Regions from separate parts of the Homo sapiens genome. Here region 1 is linked to region 2. Evidence: fine-mapped expression QTL. A gene starts in region 2. The other region holds a variant in brackets. All regions are shown on one strand. Distances are between the middles of the regions.

Region 1 (8,000 bases), 38 kb after region 2:
GTGCTTTGATTCAACACCACTGATCATTCATAAGCTGAGAAAATACATGTCTTAGCTTAGAATCCTGAAAAGAAAGAACTGGAATGATAGGAGAGACCATCTAATCCAGGGATAGTAAATAGATGGTGCTCGTACTACCACCTGCTGTGGCAGACATCGCTAATGGAGCACTATCACAGGCCTCCCGTTTCACACTCACTGCAGACATAGCTAATGGAGCACTATCACAGGCCTCCCGTTTCACACCCACAGCAGACATCACTCATGGAGTATTATCAACGCTCCCCTTTCACACCCATGACAGACACCACTAACGGAGCACTATCACAACCCTTTCACACCCACGGCAGACCTATCACAGCCCTCCCTTTTCACACTCAATAGACATTACTCATGCAGCACTGTCAATACACCCCTTTCACACCCACAGCAGACATCACTAATGGTATACCCATGGTACACATCACTAAGGGAGCACTATCACAGTCTTCCCCTTTCTTACCCACAGCAGATATCACTAATGGAGCACTATCACAACCCTCCCTTTTCACACTCACGGCCAACATCACTCATGGAGCATTGTCAATGCACCCCTTTCACACCCACAGCAGACATCACTAATGGTATAACCATGGCAAACATCACTAATGGAGAACTATCACAGCCTCCCCCTTTCATACCCACAGCAGGCATCACTAATGGAGCACTATCAACCCTTGCCTTTCACAGCCATGGCAGACATCACTAATGGTGCCATATCAAACTTTCCCTTTCATAGCCATGGCAGGCATCACTAATGAAGCACTACTACAACCCTTCTTTTTCACACCCATAGCAGACATCATTCATGGAGCACTGTCAACACACCCCTTTCACACCCACAACAGACATCACTAATGGCATACCCATGGCAGACATCACTAAGGGAGCACTATCACAACCCTCCCCTTTCATACCCACAGCAGACATCACTAATGGAGCACCATCAACTCTCCCCTTTCACACCATGGCAGACATCACTGATGGCATACCCATGGCAGACATCACTAAGGCAACACTATCACAACCCTCCCCTTTCACACCCACAACAGACATCACTAATGGGGCACAGCAGTCTTGGCCATGAGCCCTACTATAACCTCAGGATCCTTCTTAACACCCTGCTTCAGGAAGCCCCTACCCACTGAGCTGGATTTTGAGCCTGTTTGCCATCTTTGCAGTCTGATCATGGTACAAATGGGGCATCTGAAGCTCTGCAAGTCAAAGGGGCTCTCCCAAGGCCAGGAAGTACATAAACTTCCTCTTTCAAGTGTTCAAGAGGCCTCCAAGCTCCAGCAGTGCGGCCAGCAGACAAACATGGGTTTAGCTCCTTGGGTACACACTATCTCTTCTTCCTGGCTTTGTGTCTGACATTCACCAGAGCTGCTTGGAGAAGTGGCAGATTCTGGGGCTGGGGCTGGAAAAAGACAAGATAAGCCCAAGGCGTCTTACAGTGCCAGGAAGCAAGGAAATGCTGAAAAACAGAGACAGACACAAACAAAACAGCCCAAACCAGAACGTGGGCCCATGTCAAAAGGACACAGGAGCCGACGTGAAAGAGCTCTCAGGGCTGAAACAATTTGAGCAACAAAATAAACGATAGTATTGGATTATAACCCAGAGAATAAAGTCAAATCCACGAATCCATACTGATGTAAATAGATGATTGAATACATAAATAGATGGGCATGAAGAGACAAACCTTCCTTGCAGAAGAATTCCAAGTAATGAATGTAGAAATGAAGGAACTGGAAAACCACTGTTCAGACCTCACAGTGGTAATTGCTACAGGCAAGAGCTGCCGATGAATGCTGACATTGGTGGGCAGAACTTTAAGGAAAGAGAGGATATTTGCATAACCTCAAAATATCTATTAATTACTGGGGTGGCTTTAACATCTGTCCGTGGGTTCTTTGATACTCTTCCTCTAGGAGGTCGAGCTTAATCCCCCTCTTTTTGAGACTGGGCTGCATTTAGTGACTTGCTGCTTTTTTTTTTTTTTTTGAGACGGAGTTTCGCTCTTTTGCTCAGGCTGGAGTGAAGTGGTATGATCTCGGCTCACTGCAACCTCTGTCTCCCGGGTTCAAGCGATTCTCCTGCCTCAGCCTCCTAAGTAGCTAGGATTATAGGCACCCACCACCACGCCTGGCTAATTTTTGTATTTTTAGTAGAGATGGGGTTTCACCATGTTGGTCAGGCTGATCTCGAACTGACCTCAGGTGATCCACCCACCTCGGCCTCCCAAAGTGCGTGAGCCGGCCAGGCGCGGTGGCTCATGCCTGTAATCCCAGCACTTTGGGAGGCCGAGGTGGATGGATCACGAGGTCAGGAGTTCAAGACCAGCCTGGCCAACATAGTGAAACCCTGTCTCTACTAAAAATACAAAAATTAGCCGGGCATGGTGGCGCACACCTGTAGTCCCAGCTACTTGGGAGGCTGAGGCAGGACAATTGTTTGAACCCGGGAGACAGAGGTTACAGTGAGCTGAAATCGTGCCACTGCACTCCAGCTTGGGCAACAGAGCGAGACTTCGTCTCAAAAAAAAATTTAAAGTGCTTGAGCCACCGCGTCCGGCCTATTCAGTGACTTGCTTCTAATGACTGGACCGTGGTGATTGCACAGTGGAGAGACTGGTAGACAGCACAGGTGATGAAAGTCAGCATCGCTTGGATGTCATGTGGGTTTCCTGTGCCCCCATGTGATATGACGAGAAGGGTACTTCACCTCTGTGTATTTCTTTCCCAAGCCTATAACTCTGGTCTAATCATGAGAAACATCAGACATTCTAAAAATACCTGATCAGTGCTTTTCAAAAAGTGTCAAGATAGTGGCAGACAAGGAAAGACTGAGAAGCGGTGATAGGTTGGAGGAGAACAAGGATACCACTAAATGCAACACCGTGTCCTGGATGGGATCCTGCAGCAGAAACCAGACATTAGAGGAAAAAGTGGAGAAATCCTATTAAAGTCGCTGGGCGCGGTGGCTCAAGCCTGAAATCCCAGTACTTTGGGAGGCTGAGGCGGGCGGATCCCCTGAGGTCAGGAGTTCGAGGTCAACCTGCCAACATGGTGAAATCCCGTTTCTACTAAAAATACAAAAATTAGCCGGGTGTGGTGGCAGGCGCCTGCAATCCCAGCTACCCGGGAGGCTGAGGCAGGAGAATCACTTGAACCCGGGAGGCGGAGGCTGCAGTGAGCCAAGATTGCACCATTGCACTCCAGCCTGGGCCACAGAACAAGACTCTGTCTCAAAAAAAAAAAAAAACAACAACAACAAAAAAACAAAACCTAATAAAGTCTGGAGTTTAGTTAACTTAGTTTTGACAAATGTACTGTGGTAATGTCAGATGTCAGCATCAGGGGAGGCTGTCTGAAGCAGGTATGGGAACAATCTGTAATGTTCTTACTACTCTTCTAGAATTCT[G/GA]AAAAAAAATTGTTTTTAAGTTTCTGCAGTGATTCTAGACTCTCATTGGTCCAGCTGGGATACCCTGGCCCCGCCCCTTCCTGGCTGATTCACGTGGCCCTCGTGGGCATGTCCTGCCTCCATTTCAGATGTCGCCCGGGGACCTTTAACCTGCAGCCCCACAATCCAGCTGGCTGCAGCAGCTGTTTCTGCTATGGCCACTCCAAGGTGTGCGCGTCCACTGCCCAGTTCCAGGTGCATCACATCCTCAGCGATTTCCACCAGGGTAAGAGATGCTCCCTGCAAACGCCTCCCAAGGGTCTGCTCCCAGCCTAGGCAGGTGATCCTGCCCTGGGGAGATCTTGCATTAGTGGATCTCCCATTGTGGAGAGGAGCCACAGGCCTGCACAGCCTAGGTGGGGTCGGGGGTGAGATGATGGCTCCCCAGTGCCCACCTGCGACCCCCAGCTCCCTCCCCAGTCCCTGACTCTTCTCTTTATACCCGTGGTGGGGTTGGGGGCCGGGTACGTGACGCTTTTTGGATCCTGTAGGGGAATTTCCCACTCACCCCGTTGAGACTGGCCTCCCTTGGTGTGTCTAAACACTGGGGATTCAGGCTCAGTCTCCTGGCCTCCACTTATTGAGCACCTGCTGTTTGCCAGGCACTGTGCTGAGCACCTAACATGCAAGGATTCTCATTCCCCTTTCAATGATGAAGTAACTGAGACCTACAAAAGGTAGGCCACTTGCCTGAGGCCACATAACAGTTGTGAGCACTGCATTTGTCAGCTCCTGAGTTTTGCTCCTTTTTTTTTTTTTTTTTTTTTTTTTTTTTGGACACAGGGTCTTGCTGAGTCACCAAGGCTGAAGTGCAGTGGTGCAAGATTGCACAGCACAGCTCACTGCAGCCACCACCTCCCTGGGCTCACGTGATCCTCCCACCTCAGCCTCCTGAGTAGCTAGGACCACAGGTGTGCACCACCGTGCCCGGCTAATTTTTATATTTTTTTCTAAAGACAGGGTTTTGCCATGTCTTTAGACCCAGGCTGGTCTCAATCTCCTGGGCTCAAGTAGTCTGCCCACCTCCGCCTCCCAAAATGCTGGGACTACAGGCGTGCACCACCATGCCGAGCTAATTTTTGTATTTTTTTTTTTTTTTTTTTTTTTTTTGTACAGACGGGGTCTTACCATGTTGCCCAGGCTGGTCTAGAACTCCTGAGCTCAGGCAATCCCGCCCACCTCGGCTTCCCAAAGTGCTGGGATTATGAGTGTCCGCGCCCAGCTGTTTTGCCCTTAACCGCTGTGGTGGCCTATACCGTGGTCCCTGACTCCAGGTGGCACAGCCGCATATTTAAAGAGGAAAGCAGCAGAGCTCGGAGCTCTGCATTAAACCAGAGGCTGCGTGGGCCCCAGCGATGTCCCACGGAGCGCCCCGCACCTTCCGCCTGTCCCCAGGAAGGAGCGAGGCATCAGCTGAAACAGAAGAACCTCAGGGCCGACGCTGGGGCGGCCCCAGACATGAGGGCCGCGCGCCCTCTGCTGGAAGCCGCGCAGAAAGCAGGACCGAGAGATGCGCGGACCGGCGCCGCGTGTCTGGGTCCTGGGTCCGGGGGTCTAGGGTGTCAGCGTTGGGCAGGACTCATTTTCTAGACCCTAAGAACAGTGTCATGATCTGTTCTCACATTGGGCCAGGCACTGGGTGTGGCCGGCCCTTCAGGGGTGTCATCTCATTTTGTCTCACAGTTGCCCTTGCGCAGGAGTTCTCAAAACTTTTTGGTCTCTGAATTCCTCTTTTTTTTTTTTTTTTTAAGACGGAGTCTCACTGTGTTGCCCAGGCTGGAGTGCAATGGCGTGATCTCAGCTCTCTGCAACCTCCGCCTCCCAGGTTCAAGTGATTTTCCTGCCTCAGCCTCCTGTGTAGCTGGGACTGCAGGCACCCACCACCACGCCCAGCTTATTTTTGTATTTTTAGTACAGGTCGGGGGTTTCACCATGTTGGTCAGGCTGGTCTTGAACTCCTGACCTCAACTGATCCACCCTCCTCAGCCTCCCAGAGTGCTGGGATTACAGGTGTGAGCCACCGCACCCGGCCTCTGGATCCCTTTATGCTCTTGAAAATTATTGAGAACCCCAAAGTGCTTTTGTTTATGTGGGTGGTTTGTATGGATATTTGCTGTCTTAGAAATGGAAACTGTGGCTGGGCGCAGTGGCTCACGCCTGTAATCCCAGCACTCTGGGAGGCCGGGGTGGGGGTGGGGGGAGCGGATCACCTGAGGTCAAGAGTTCGAGACCAGCCTGGCCAACATGACGAAACCCCGTCTCTGCTAAAAATACAAAAATTAGCCAGGCGTGGTGGCCAGCTCCTGTAATCCCAGCTACTCGGGAGGCTGAGGCAGGAGAATCGCTTGAACCTGGGAGGCAGAGGTTGCAGTGAGCCGAGATCGCGCCACTGCACTCCAGCCTGAGTGACAGGGTGAGACTCTGTCTCAAAAAAAAAGAAAACAAGTAGTTTTTAAATTTTTATTATTTTTATTTATTTTTATTTTATTTTTTTAGCAGAGACGGGGTTTGCCATGTTGACCAGGATGGTCTTGATCTCTTGACCTCATGATCCATCTGCCTCGGCCTCCCAGAGCGCTAGGATTATAGGTGTGAGCCACCACACCCAGCTGATTTTTTTTTTTTTTTTTTTTTTTTTTTGAGTCAGAGTCTTGCTCTGTCACCCAGGCTGGAGTGCAGTGGCACAATCTCAGCTCGCTGCAACCTCCGCCTCTCGGGTTCAGGCGATTCTCCTGCCTCAGCCTCCTGAGTAGCTCAGATTATAGGCAGCTGCTACCATGCCTGGCTAATTTCTGTATTTTTAGCAGAGATGGGGTTTCGCCATGTTGGCCAGGCTGGTCTCGAACTTCTGACCTCAGATGATCCACCCACCTCGGCCTCTCAGAGTGCTGGGATTACAGGCATGAGCCACTGTGCCTGGCCTTCTAGTTCCTTCTAAATGCCTGTCTGCAAACTTCTCTTCATGTTGACATCTTCCTTTCTCTGACCTCTTTCCCCACTCCGTTCCTTCCTTCTTACCCCTTGGCTGCCCCAGGTATTTGGCCTCTGCCTCATTGCCCGCTACCCCCTGGAGAGGCACCTCCTTAAGGTCACTCGCTGTGTGCTGGGCTGTGCTCCGTGTTAACTGCTGTGGCCAGAGGGAGGAGGCACTGAACTGGCACTGGGGACCAGAAGGCCTGGGCTCCCGTCGTGGCTGGGCCCCTTCCTAACCAGGTGGCCTCCTTGCCTGAGGTGCTGTTAATGACATGGGCCACTGGAAGGACAGGGTTCATGAGGTCACAGGTGAGAAAGTTCTCTGAGAACCTGAAGATGAGGTCAAGTCTGGTACTATTAGAGATGGCCCTGATGTCCCAGGGCCCCCATGTGGGGGTCTTCAGGCTGTCTTCATGCTGAGCTCAAAACCCCACTGAAAGGGCAGGGCAGGCTTCCAGGTCTGACCATGCCCCCAAGCAGATCCGGGTCCCTGAGCTTTCTAGCTTCTCCTGGGGCTCCCTCCTACCCCAGGGCCCCCACCTGGGGCTGGCACCTGGAGACCACCCTCCGGGGCCTCACACTGATCGGGGGGTGTCTGTGTTTGCTGTCTAGGAGCCGAAGGCTGGTGGGCCAGAAGTGTGGGGGGCTCTGAGCACCCCCCACAATGGAGCCCAAATGGGGTCCTCCTGAGCCCAGAAGACGAGGAGGAGCTCACAGCACCAGGTACCTCCAGCACCAGGTGGGGGCTGGCCGCCCTGTGTCGGTTCCTCCTGCTGCTAAACAACTTGCCGCATATTAGAGGCTGAAAACAATGCCAGTTTATTCTCTTAGAGTTCTGGAGAAGTCAGAAATAGGTCTCTCGGAGCTAACATCAAGGTGTCAGCAGGGCTGAGTTCCTTCTGGAGGCCCATGGGAAAGTCCCTTCCTTGCCTTTCCCAGCCTCTAGAAGCCGCCTGCATTCCTGGGCTCATGGCCTCTTCCTCCATCTTCAAAGCAGCTGAGTTTTTCTCACGCCCCATCACTGGCACCAACTCCCCTGCCTCCCTCTTGTGTATTTGCCATTAATCTCTAATGATTGATGGGGCCCAGCTGGATAACCCAAGAGGCTCTTCCTACCTCAGGTCAGCTGATTAACAACCTTAATGTCCCCTGCCACAGAACACACCATATTTATGGATTCCAGGGATTAGAATGTGGATGCCTTGGGAAGGCTGTTATTCTGCCATCAGACCACCGTATCTGATGAAACCCCCGTTTTTCTGGTCATAGCTTTGTCATGGAGGGCTTCTTCAGTGCCACAGGGCCATAGCCACTGTCATGGCCCAGAGAATCTGTGTTTCCCATCAGCCCCTCACCCGCCAGGCCACTGCACCCTAAGCCCAGGGCCATGGCATTCTTGCAAAAGGAAGGAGGTTCTTGATCATTCTGACCTCTCCACCCCACAGTGAGGGGAACTGTGGTCTCCTGGCGACTGTCTCAGCCCCAGAACCCAGAGCCTAGAGCCCATCTTTAGCCCCACTGTGGCT
Region 2 (11,165 bases):
TGATGGGGATGTATTCTAAGAAATGTGTCGGCAAGTGATTCTGTCATTGTGTGAACATCAGAGAACATACACAAACCTAGATGGTACAGCCTACTGCATACCTAGGCTATATGGTGTAGTCTATTGTTCCTAGGCTACAAACCTCTACAGAATGGCACTGTGCTGAATACTGCAGGCAATTTTAGCACAATGATAAGTATTTGTGCCTCTAAATATAGAAAAGCTACAGTAAAAATATGTGGGCTGGGCATGGTAGCTCACACCTGTAATCCCAGCGCTTTGGGAGGCTCAAGTGAGTGGATCACTTGAGGTCAGGAGTTTGAGACCAGCCTGGCCAACACAGTGAAACCCCATCTCGGCCGGGCACGGTGGCTTACGCCTGTAATCCCAGCACTTTGGGAGGCCGAGGTGGGCAGATCACAAGGTCAGGAGATCGAGACCATCCTGGCTAACACGATGAAACCCCGTCTCTACTAAAAAAAAAAATACAAAAAGTTAGCCGGGCGTGGTGGCGGGCGCCTGTAGTCCCAGCTACTCGGGAGGCTGAGGCAGGAGAACGGCATGAACCCAGGAGGTGGAGCTTGCAGTGAGCCGAGATCGTGCCACTGCACTCCAGCCTGGGCGACAGAGCAAGACTCTGTCTCAAAAAAAGGAAACTCCATCTCTACCAAAAATACACAATTTAGCTGGATGTGATGGCGCCTTTAGTCCCAGCTACTCAGGAGGCTAAGGTGGGAGAATCACTTGAACCTGGGAGGCAGAGGCTGCAGTGAGCCGAGATCATGCCACTGCACTCCAGCCTGGGCAACAGAGTGAGACTCTATCTCAAAAAAATATGTATATGCTATAAAAGATTAAAAATGGTATACCCATATAGGGCACTTACCATAAATGGAGCTTGCAGGACTGGAAGTTGCTCTGGGGAGTCAGTGAGCGAGTGGTGAGCGAATGTGAAGGCCTAGGATGTTACTGTACACTACTGTAGACTTTATGAACATTGTACACTTAAGCTACATTAAATTTATTTAAAAATATAAGGTATTCGTGCTACGATATTATGATGGCTATGACATCACTGGACAATAGGAATTTTTCAGCTCCATTGTAATCTTAGGTGGTCCATCACTGAACAAAATGTCATTATGTAGCATATGACTATATATATAAAGTTAGCACTATTAGCCAATCCCTGCAAACTTCTTTGGGGGATAATCCTGCTGCATCCTTAGCAGGCTCAGAACTTCCCCAGTCAGGCCATGCTGGACTTTTCCCTAGTTGCTGGACCTCTGGCCAAGAGGGGAGGTGGGCAAGGACCATCTTATAGGAGAAGGGCGAGGATGGCCTTATAGACACCTGCCTCATTTGAGGCTCCTGCAAACTCTTCAAGCAGTGGTGGGGTGGTGGGCACTATCTTCTAGAAAAGCGGAGTGGATCCCTTCTTCAGGCCCAGAGTGTTAAAGGAATCTAGAGATTCAGGGTTCTCAGTGAATCTGTCCAGATACCCACCCTAAGTCTCAAGGTCCCACTTCTTCCCTATCCGGACCCTGATTGTGATTCAGGATGCTTTCCAGGGATGGGAAATCAATCTCCTCTGGAGTCCAGTGCAACTTACAATCAGATCCTGAGCCTAGTTTTCAGCTCGGTCTGCCCCGTGTGGTTTGTTTGTTTGTTCGTTTGTTTGTTTTTTGAGATGGAGTCTCACTGTGTCACCCAGGCGGGAGTACAGTGGCGCCATCTTGGCTCACGGCAGCCTCTGCCTCCCGGGTTCAAGTGATTCTAGTGCCTCAGCCTCTGGAGTAGCTGAAACTATAGGTGCAAGCGCCAGGCCCGGCTAATTATTATATTTTTAGTTAGAGACAGGGATTCATATGTTGGCCAAGCCGGTCTCAAACTCCTGATCTCAAGTGATCCACCTGACTGGGCCTCCCAAAGTGCTGGGATTACAGGCGTGAGCCACCATGCCCCACCAGGTCTTTTTTTTTTTTTTTCTAATTGTTGCCAACAAGGGCCTCTGGCTTTCTAAATTTGTTTTGGATTGGTCCAAGATCACCCTGACCTGGTCATTTTCCCTCTTCAAGGTATCAGTGACATTCAGCAAGGGCCACCCAATCCCACAGTCTCTATAATCACTATTCCCTACTCTCAAGCACCAGAGATTGGATGAACCATCGTCTCCTTCCACCTGTACCTTGGTCAAGTTCACTGTAGGTGAAAGTCTTATTGCTTGTACTGTTACTGCATGCTGCGAACTACAAATACTTCACCTAGCTGTAGTGATACCAGCCGGGTGTTACTGTAAAAAGTAAAGTAGAGGTTCCTCTTCAAAGAGACTCTCCTCCCCATCTAATTAAGAATAAATGGTAACTTCTCTCAGAAGCAAAATTTATTCAAAGACCTGTGCTAACATTCTTAAATATCTGCTAGCCGTAATAAAGAAATCAATGTACTTTATGTTCTTAGCTCCCACAATTTAGCCTAAATATTTGCCCTGGCATGCTTATACTGGTCCAAGCAGGCATTAGGTCATAACCTATTCCTCTTCCTTACTTAGAAGTGTTTTTACCTTTCTCAGCACTCCACAAATTTCTTCCTCCTTCCTTTGTTCTCCTCCACCTTTGCCTCTTTTAAAAAGTTCTAAGTTGCTAGCCAATCAGGACAAATACAGAATGTGAAGTCCCGTTCCAGCCAATGGAAACTGGACACAGCAGTAAAGTAGACGTGTCAGGTTATAAATGACCCTGTCTCCTTTGTTCAGTGTACTCTAGTGGCAAAACTGCTGGCGAGTGTACCCTTTCTGCACAAAGTAAAAATAGCCTTGCTGAAGAAATTAAATTTATGTTCAAGTGGTATTTCTTTATGGCACCGAGGAACAAGCATTTCTAACATTATCATGGACACTTTATGACTTTCCTGGACCCTGGGCAGTTTTGCCTTAGCGGGCTCCTTTATTTATTAAAAAATATTAAAAATTCTATTTTACCGAGGGGAGAAGGTTATAGAGAGTTATTGTTTAAGAGGACAGAGTTTCAGTTTTGCAAGATAAAAAGTTCTGGAGGCCGTGTGCAGTGGCCCACGTCTGTAATCTCAGCACTTTGGGAGGCTGAGGCAGGAGGATCACTTGAGGTCAGGAGTTCGAGACCAGCCTGGCCAACATAGTGAAACCCAGTCTCTAAAATAAAAAAATTAGCTGGGCATGGTGGCAGGTGCCTGTAATCCCAGCTACCAGGGAGGCTGAGGCAGGAGAATTGCCTGAACCTGGGAGGCAGAGGTTGCAGTGAGCCAAGATGGCGCCACTGCACTCTAGCTTAGGTGACAGAGCAAGACTCCATCTCAAAAAAAAAAAAAAAAAGGTCTGGAGATGGATGGTGGTGATGGTTGCACAACAATGTGAATGTGCTTAATATTATTTAATTGTAACTTAAAAGTGGTTAAGATCGTAAATTTTATAAATATGTTATATGTATTTTACCACAATTATAATTTTTTTTTTTTTTTTTGAGACAGGGCCTCCCTCTGTCACCCAGGCTGGAGTGCAGTGGCGTGATCTTGGCTCACTGCAACCTTCGCCCCCTGGGCTCAAGCAATTCTCCCACCTCAGCCTCCCAAGCAGCTGGGACCACAGGTGTATGCCACCATGCCCGGGTAATTTTTTGTATTTTTAGTAGAGACGAGGTCTCACCATGTTGCCCAGCCTGGCCTCAAACTCCTGAGCTCCAGCGATCTACCCGCCTTAGCCTCCCAATGTGCTGGGATCACAGGTATGAGCCACCGTGCCTGGCACTAACATTTTTAAAAATTATATTTAACCATTGCATTGATCTAAAGACGGGTATATTAATATCATACGTTAAAACATGTTCTTCAGCCTAAAAGTTCTTTTTTTTCTTCTGACTTTAAAGATATTAGAACAGTTTTTGTGGGTTCCTAGAATTCCTGTGGGCTGCCATGTTTCCTGTGCCTGATAGATGAATTTGCTTTGGATGGGTGCACAGCCCAGCTCAGGGTAGCTGCGTGGACCATCAAGAGTCTGCTGCAATCATGTTCTTGACCATAAGAGAAAACTTTAACAAAGAAGCTTCCATAACACCATCAAAAAAACAATTTGGAATTACATTAAATGATATTTTAACTTGGGGAGAATTTGTATATTTAAACAGTTGGAAATCCGTGAATATAGATGCTGGTCTCTTCAGGTTTTCTGTCTCTCAGTAGCATTTTATAATTTGATTCATTTATATCTTGCACATTTCATACCAGATTTATTATTAGGTGTTCTACCATTTCCTACATCATTGCTGGCATCAGTTTTTTGTTTGTTTTGTTTTGTTTTTGTTTTGTTTTTTAAAAAACAGGGTCTTGCTCTATTGCATAGGCTGGAGTGCATTTGCGTGACCTCGGCTCACTGCAACCTCTGTCTCCTGAATTCAAGCGATTCTTGTGCCTCAGCCTTCCAAGTAGCTGGGATTACAGGTGTGCCACAATGCCTGGCTAATTTTTGTATTTTTAGTGGAGATGGGGTTTCACCATATTGCCCAGGCTGGTCTCGAACTCATGACCTCAGGTGATCTGCCTGCCTCAGCCTCCCAAAGTGCTGGGATTACAGGCGTGAGCCACCGCACCCAGCCAGAAAATGCCTATTGCTGGCATTGGTTTTCGTACTCTATCCTGTAGTCAGCCATCTTACGGAGCTCTTATTAATTTTAATAGTCTTAGTAGAATCTTTTAGATTTTCTAGATGTATGTTCAGGTAAGTAGAAGATATAAATATTTATATCTTTTAAGTTTTTTGTCTTATTGTATTAGCTAGAACTTCCAAAATAACCTTAGGTACCAGTGGTGATATCATATACTAACTCTACTTAGATATAGTTCTGAAATCTCTAACTTATTCCATGGGTCTATTCTGTAGTCCTTTCCACAACCGTATTGTTTTAATCATGTGTAAATAACTGGTAGTGAATCAGCCCACTACAGTTCATCTTGCTTCCAAAAATTTTCTTTCTTTCTTTTCTTTCTTTTTTTTTTTTTTGATGGAGTTTCTCTCTTGTTGCCCAGGCTGGAGTGCAATGGCATGATCTCAGTTCACTGCAACTTCTGCCCCCCGGGTTCAAACAATTCTCCTGCCTCAGCCTCCTGAGTAGCTGGGATTACAGGCACGCACCGCCACACCCAGCTAATTTTTGTGTTTTTAGTAGAGACGGGGTTTCACTATGTTGGCCAGGCTGGTCTCGAACTCCTGACCTCAGGTGATCTGCCTTCCTCAACTTCCCAAAATGCTGGGATTATAGGCGAGAGCCACCGCGCCAGGCCAGGAAATTTATTTCTATTTTCCTTAGAGTTCGTCTGGGAATGGCTGCCTTTTTTTTTTTTTTTTTTTCGAGACAGGGTCTGACTCTGTTGGCCAGGCTGGAGTGCAATGGCATGATCACAGCCCACTGCAGCCTAACCTCCCGGGCTCAAGGGATCCTTCCACCTCAGCCTCCCAGGTAGCTGGGACTACAGGCTTGTGCCATGACGCCGGGCTAATTTTTGTATTTTTTTGTAGAGATAGGGTCTCACTATTTTGCCCAGGTTGGTCTCGAACTCCTGGCCTCAAGTTATCCTTCCGCCTCCACCTCCCAAAGTGCTAGGATTACAGGCGTGAGCCACCGCGCACGACCTGGCTGCTAAATTTTATCGAATGACTTCTCTCCCTCGATTTGCTAATGTTAATAAATGGGGAGTAAAGGGGGCATTTATGGGGGTTGGGGCAGAAGACAAGGAAGCCCTCTCTGAGGTGACATTTGTGATAAGACCAGGTACCCTTGTCACAAATGTCAGGTTAGAATCTCTTTGCTGTGGGGACAGAGCGCAGCCGGCAGCAGGAGTGCTTTTCAGGGTTAAGGGCGACAGGAGCTATGCGGAGCCATCTCACAACCCTGTCCAGGGCACACTTTATTGCTAGGAGGAGATGCGCAAACGGTAGCGATCAGTTAGAGATAGATCCTCTTGTCCCCTTTTATCTCAGGACTCCAAGGCACTGCTGAACAGTTTCTGTTTAATGAGCAGCCATTGAAGCCTCCCAATGGCGAGAATGAGCCTGCATCTTTACCGACCCCACTCCACAGACGAGGAAACTGAGGCTCAAAGAGGCCCGGGTCGCCTCTGGGGCAGACTCCCGAGCCGCGCACTGCCGGGCACGTCCAGCAGGTGGGAGTGGGCGCCCGGGGACGGCGCGGTCCCTGGTATTTTTAGTGGGGTGGGGCCGCCGCCGCCCGCCCCTCCCTCCAGCCTCCCCGCCCCGCAGGGGAAGGCGGGTCCTGGCGGCCAGCGCGCGGTCCGCGCCCACCCTAGCCGAGCGGGGCCGGCAGAGCGCGCGGCGTCGGTGCCCTTGACCATGGCGGCGGCTGCGCTTCTGCTGGGGCTGGCGCTGCTGGCACCGCGGGCGGCCGGCGCGGGCATGGGCGCGTGCTATGACGGCGCAGGGCGCCCGCAGCGCTGCCTGCCGGTGTTCGAGAACGCGGCGTTTGGGCGGCTCGCCCAGGCCTCGCACACGTGCGGCAGCCCGCCCGAGGACTTCTGTCCCCACGTGGGCGCCGCGGGCGCGGGGGCTCATTGCCAGCGCTGCGACGCCGCCGACCCCCAGCGCCACCACAACGCCTCCTACCTCACCGACTTCCACAGCCAGGACGAGAGCACCTGGTGGCAGAGCCCGTCCATGGCCTTCGGCGTGCAGTACCCCACCTCGGTCAACATCACCCTCCGCCTAGGTAAGCGCGGGCTGGGGGCACCGCCACCGCACCCCGTGTCCCCACTCCACTGGGGGTCTGAGGCTGAGGCCTGAGCTGCTGTGCGCCCAGGTTGGGCTGCAGGACCCAGATATGGTGTTGGATGGAGGGGCTCAGAAATAGGAATTAGGCTGGGTGCGGTGGCTCACTCCTGAAATCCCAGCACTTTGGGAGGCCGAGATGGGAGGGTCGCTTGAGCCCAGGAGTTCAAGATCAGCCTGGGCAACGTAGTGAGATCCCATCTTTACAAAAAATAAAGAAAAATAGGCCGGGCGCGGTGGCTGACGTCTGTAATCCCAGCACTTTGGGAGGCCGAGGCGGGCGGATCACCTGAGGTCAGGAGTTCGAGACCAGCCTGGCCAACATGGTGAAAACCCGTCTCTACTAAAAATAGAAAATTTGGCCGGGCGTGGTGGTAGGTGCCTGTAGTTCCAGCTACTCAGGAGGCTGGGGCAGGAGAATCGCTTGAACCCGGGAGGTGGAGGTTGCCGTGAGCCGAGGTCGCACCACCGTTCTCCAGCCTGGGCAACAGAGCTAACTCCGTCTCAAAAAAAAAAAAAAAAAAAAAAAAAAGCTGGGCGTGGTGGTGCACACCTATGGTCCCAGCTACTCAAGAGGCTGAGGCAGGAGGATCACTTAAGACTGAGAGGTTGAGGCTGCATGAAATATGATAGTGCCACTGTGCTACAGCCTGGGCTACAGAGTGAGACCTTATCTCTTAATAAAAAGAAAGAATGAAAAAAAGAAGAAAAAAAAACAGGACCTGTACCCCTAGATAGCCAGAAGGATAGACTGAGGGGTGCCCCGTGGGGCGGGAGAGGCAGGGAGTCACTTGCTGAGCTTTGGTTCTAGGTTGCAATTATAATCCCCTGTAATGGTTTTCCATCCTAGACCAGAACTGTTGGGGAGGTGACACACCAAGGACTGAATTGGTCACCCTCTAGGGCAGGGGCTCCTGATCTTGGGTCTTCTGGTCAACTTCAGGTATTCAGTGGACCCCTGAAGCTGCCTGCAGTCCTCGGGTGGGTTCTGGAAGATAGAAGCTGTGATGTTCATCACTGCACAGGCAAAGTTTAACCCTCTGGGGAGGAGGACTAAGTTTCTTCGTGCTGCTGGGCAGCTGCGCCCGGTGGCATGGCCTCTCTGCCCTGCTCATGACTTGCCGAGGTGCAGAAGCCCTTAGATCTCCAGGAATCAGAATCTGGAGTCTGGACCCAGCCCCGGTTCTCAGCCCCTGCCCCCACTGCAGGGAGCTGGAATGCTCTCTCCTCCCTCCGTGTTCAGCCCGATTCCCATGTCCTCTGTGGCCGGGTAAGCGCCAAGTGTCTTTCCTGTTGCAGCCTCCACTGCCCTTTCAGGAGGGGCTGGTATCACTGGTTAGACTCCCTTATCTTCGAGGTCAGCCTCCCAAAGCTTTGAAAACTCAAATTATTTTTATAACTCATTTTTGCTGCTAAACCTGACCTGAGGCTATTTATAAGCTATGTTTATGCTAGTGAGAATGAATATTCATTCGCTTTGCTACTGAAATCTCATTTGAGTACAGCCGGCAGCCCCAGACCCCACTGGGGGTATTAGCACAATATATGGTATAAGGCCTGCATCGTCTTTCTAAAAGCTGAAAAATGTTCAATTCCCAAACACATTTGGAGCCTAGGAGTTTGGATTAGGGATGATGGGACTGTATCCCATGTTTCAGCTGAGAAAATTGAGGCTCAGAGAGGTTGTTTTGCCCAAAGGCACAGAGCTGCTAAGTGAGCATCTGAGCGTGGACATCCATGGACATCAGAGGTCAGAGCATAAACTCTTTGATGTGAGTTCCGCCACCCATCAACTGAGTCAGCTCCACCTCAGCCTGGTGACAGTGTCCTGGGGAGGGCTGGGAAGTGACATTGGAGTGGGGTGCGGGGAGGACCGTGAGCCCGCTCTGCAGAGCACACAGGTACTGGCTGCCACCTCAGAAACTCCCTTCTTCTGGGGCCACGTCACCTTCTCTCAGCCTATCTGGATCACTAGGTGGGGCTTCTGAATGGGACGAGGGGGAGGGGACAGGAAGCCAGTGGGGAGGGGGGAGGCTGGGGGAGCTGTCTGGATGGAGCTGGCAGGACCCCAAGGCCACAGGGGAAGGAATCTGGGACAGGGTGGGGAGTTGTTGGGGAGACACAGTGCTCCATGACAAAGGGTATCACATGTGTCCTGGGAACCCAGGGGCCAAGGAAAGAGCTCAGCCCAGGCACAAACAAGGTGGGAGGAAGTTGGGAGAAATGGCCAAGTTTTTGGATTTGAGGTAGTTCCTGTTTACTGTGCATCTACTGTGTGCCAGGCCCTGTGCTGAGCTGTGCACCCTCGTGGAACTCTGCCTAGAACCTTAGAAGCAGAGTGGTTCTGATCCTTCTAAAAGCAAGGAACCTGAGAGCCTCCACACTGTGAATGTAGAGAGCGAACACACACACACATACACACACACACACACACACACACACACACTCCCTGCTGTGTCTTATCCCGGTGAGCATTCTTCCTGTTTTGTCGCCGAAAACCAGGCATATAGGAGAGAGTCCACAAGTGTGAGTGACAGGGTCACCTCCTCTGTCCTGTGCTCTGGGGCCAGCTCAGCATTCTCTTTTGCCTGCTCTGGGAGGCAGAATAGGATAGAAATCACGAAAGGAGGCTTTGGACTTAGGCCCAGCAGAGCCACTCACTGGGCAAGCGGAGTCCCCTCTCTCAGCCTCAGTTTCCTTACCTGTACCGTACGGATAAGAGTCGCCACTTCCTGAGCAGCTGTTCGGGTTCATGAGCCCGGGTCGGAGCCATGGCAGTCCCTGTGTGTGACCAGCGTGGCTGCTGAGACAGCTCAGGGCTGAGGCTCCCTTGCGGGGATTGAGAAATGCTCGTCCCGGCCGCCCTGCCTCCTCAAAGACATCCTGACGCTGGTCTCTGTTTACGCACAAGGGGCGCCGGGGGCCCAGCGCAGCCCCAGATTTGGCCTCTTTTTGGTTTCCTATGACTTAGGTTTGCTCCAGGCTAAGCCATGGCTTGCATAATAGCGGGGGAAGGAGAGGCCTGGGATTGTCGGTGTCCCCTGTGGAGGCCGTCTGATGACCTCTCCTCCTGGTCCTTAGGCCACCTCTGCTGGCTCTGTCCCCCCACTGCTCCCTCTCCTTGAAGGCTCATGGGAAGGGAGAGTGGGCGGCCAGCTCTGGCCCGGGGTCTCCTAGAGGGAATGGGGTGAGGGGCAGGGAAGGAGATGGAGGTCGCCGCATTCCCAGCCCCCCGTGGCTCCTGGACATCTGTTCCGGATCCTCCCGTCATCTCTGAGCTGAGCCTTCCTGTCTGGGATGAAAGGCAGCAGTGGGCTCTGGCAGCCCCAGCCCACCACCAAGGCCCAGGGAGGCCACGGGGCTGGGGCCTGGGAGTCAGTGGGGTGTTGGGGGAGTGGACAGTGACGGGGGTACAGACCATTCCGGGGCTCTCACCGTGTACCAAGGACTCGCCCAGGCGGCATCCCAAACCGGCATGCTTTGTTCTTTTACAGACAGCAAAACTGAGGCACTGAGGGTGAGATCAGTTGCTTGGGGTCGCACAACTCAATAAATGGTGGCCCCCGGGACCCTCCCCCTAACTGCTGTACTTGGGAATGAAGAGGGTCCAGGCTAGGCTGGTCCACATGCTTGAAGCCTCGGTCCTGGGAGGAACAGTATGGGCTGTGGCTTTCGGTGGGCTGGGGGAGTCTCCTCCCGGCTTGCACTTGGATCGCTGAGAATCTCCTGGAACCACAAAAAGACCTGAGTCCCCCAAGCAGATGAGTTCTGCCCTCCCTCCCCCGCAGGTCCCGGATGTCCCTGCATGGAGTTGACTTCTTCTTGCTTTCATTTAGCCGTTTGCTTGGTGGTCACCCAGCCTTGGCTCACTGGCCACAGGATGCAGCTGTGAACAGGGCCATGTGCGGCCCCTGTCCTGAGGGGCTCAGGGCCCACCAGAAGGCAGCCTTTACTGAGCAGTGCTGAGAACGAGGATGTATGCTCAGAACATGCACTGGTGCGCACGAGCCTCATCTCTAGGGTCAGGAAGGGTCTCGCTGAGACCTGAAGGATGGTAGGAGCTGACCAAAGAGGGAAGGATGTTCTTCGACCTGCCGGGCCTGGATGGCCTGAGTGCAGACACCGAGAAGACGCTGGGGTCTGGCCAGCCACAGCGAGGAGCCGGGTCCCAGGGTGCTGGACATTAGGGGGACCCTGTGGCCCCTGAGGGGTCCTGGAGCCAGCTGGGTCTCCTGAGCCTTGGCTCCGTTCTGTCTTCCTGTCGAGTGGGCGGCTGCGATTGCCTTGGCCTGGGCCAGTGCTGGGGGCCAAGTCCTCCCTCCTGCTCCCTGGGGGTTCTGGCTGGAACGCTGGGCCC

Evidence for each region.
Region 1: its variant is fine-mapped to the expression of LAMC3 in whole blood (TOPMed, PIP above 0.99). The same link has a PIP of 0.9 or more in blood mononuclear cells.

The regions. Positions count from the first base shown.
Region 1 is chr9:131,041,934-131,049,933 of GRCh38, forward strand. It overlaps LAMC3 (laminin subunit gamma 3), which reads left to right. Exons shown (of 28, transcript NM_006059.4): 8 at 3,591-3,727; 9 at 7,087-7,197. Among named protein-coding and RNA genes, the nearest start is that of LAMC3, 37 kb to the left of the region's middle. The variant G/GA (reference allele first, on the strand shown) is at 3,463.
Region 2 is chr9:131,002,839-131,014,003 of GRCh38, forward strand. It overlaps LAMC3 (laminin subunit gamma 3), which reads left to right and starts at 6,336. Exons shown (of 28, transcript NM_006059.4): 1 at 6,336-6,749. The coding sequence starts at 6,377. RefSeq lists enhancers at 9,395-9,963, 9,964-10,531, 10,532-11,099.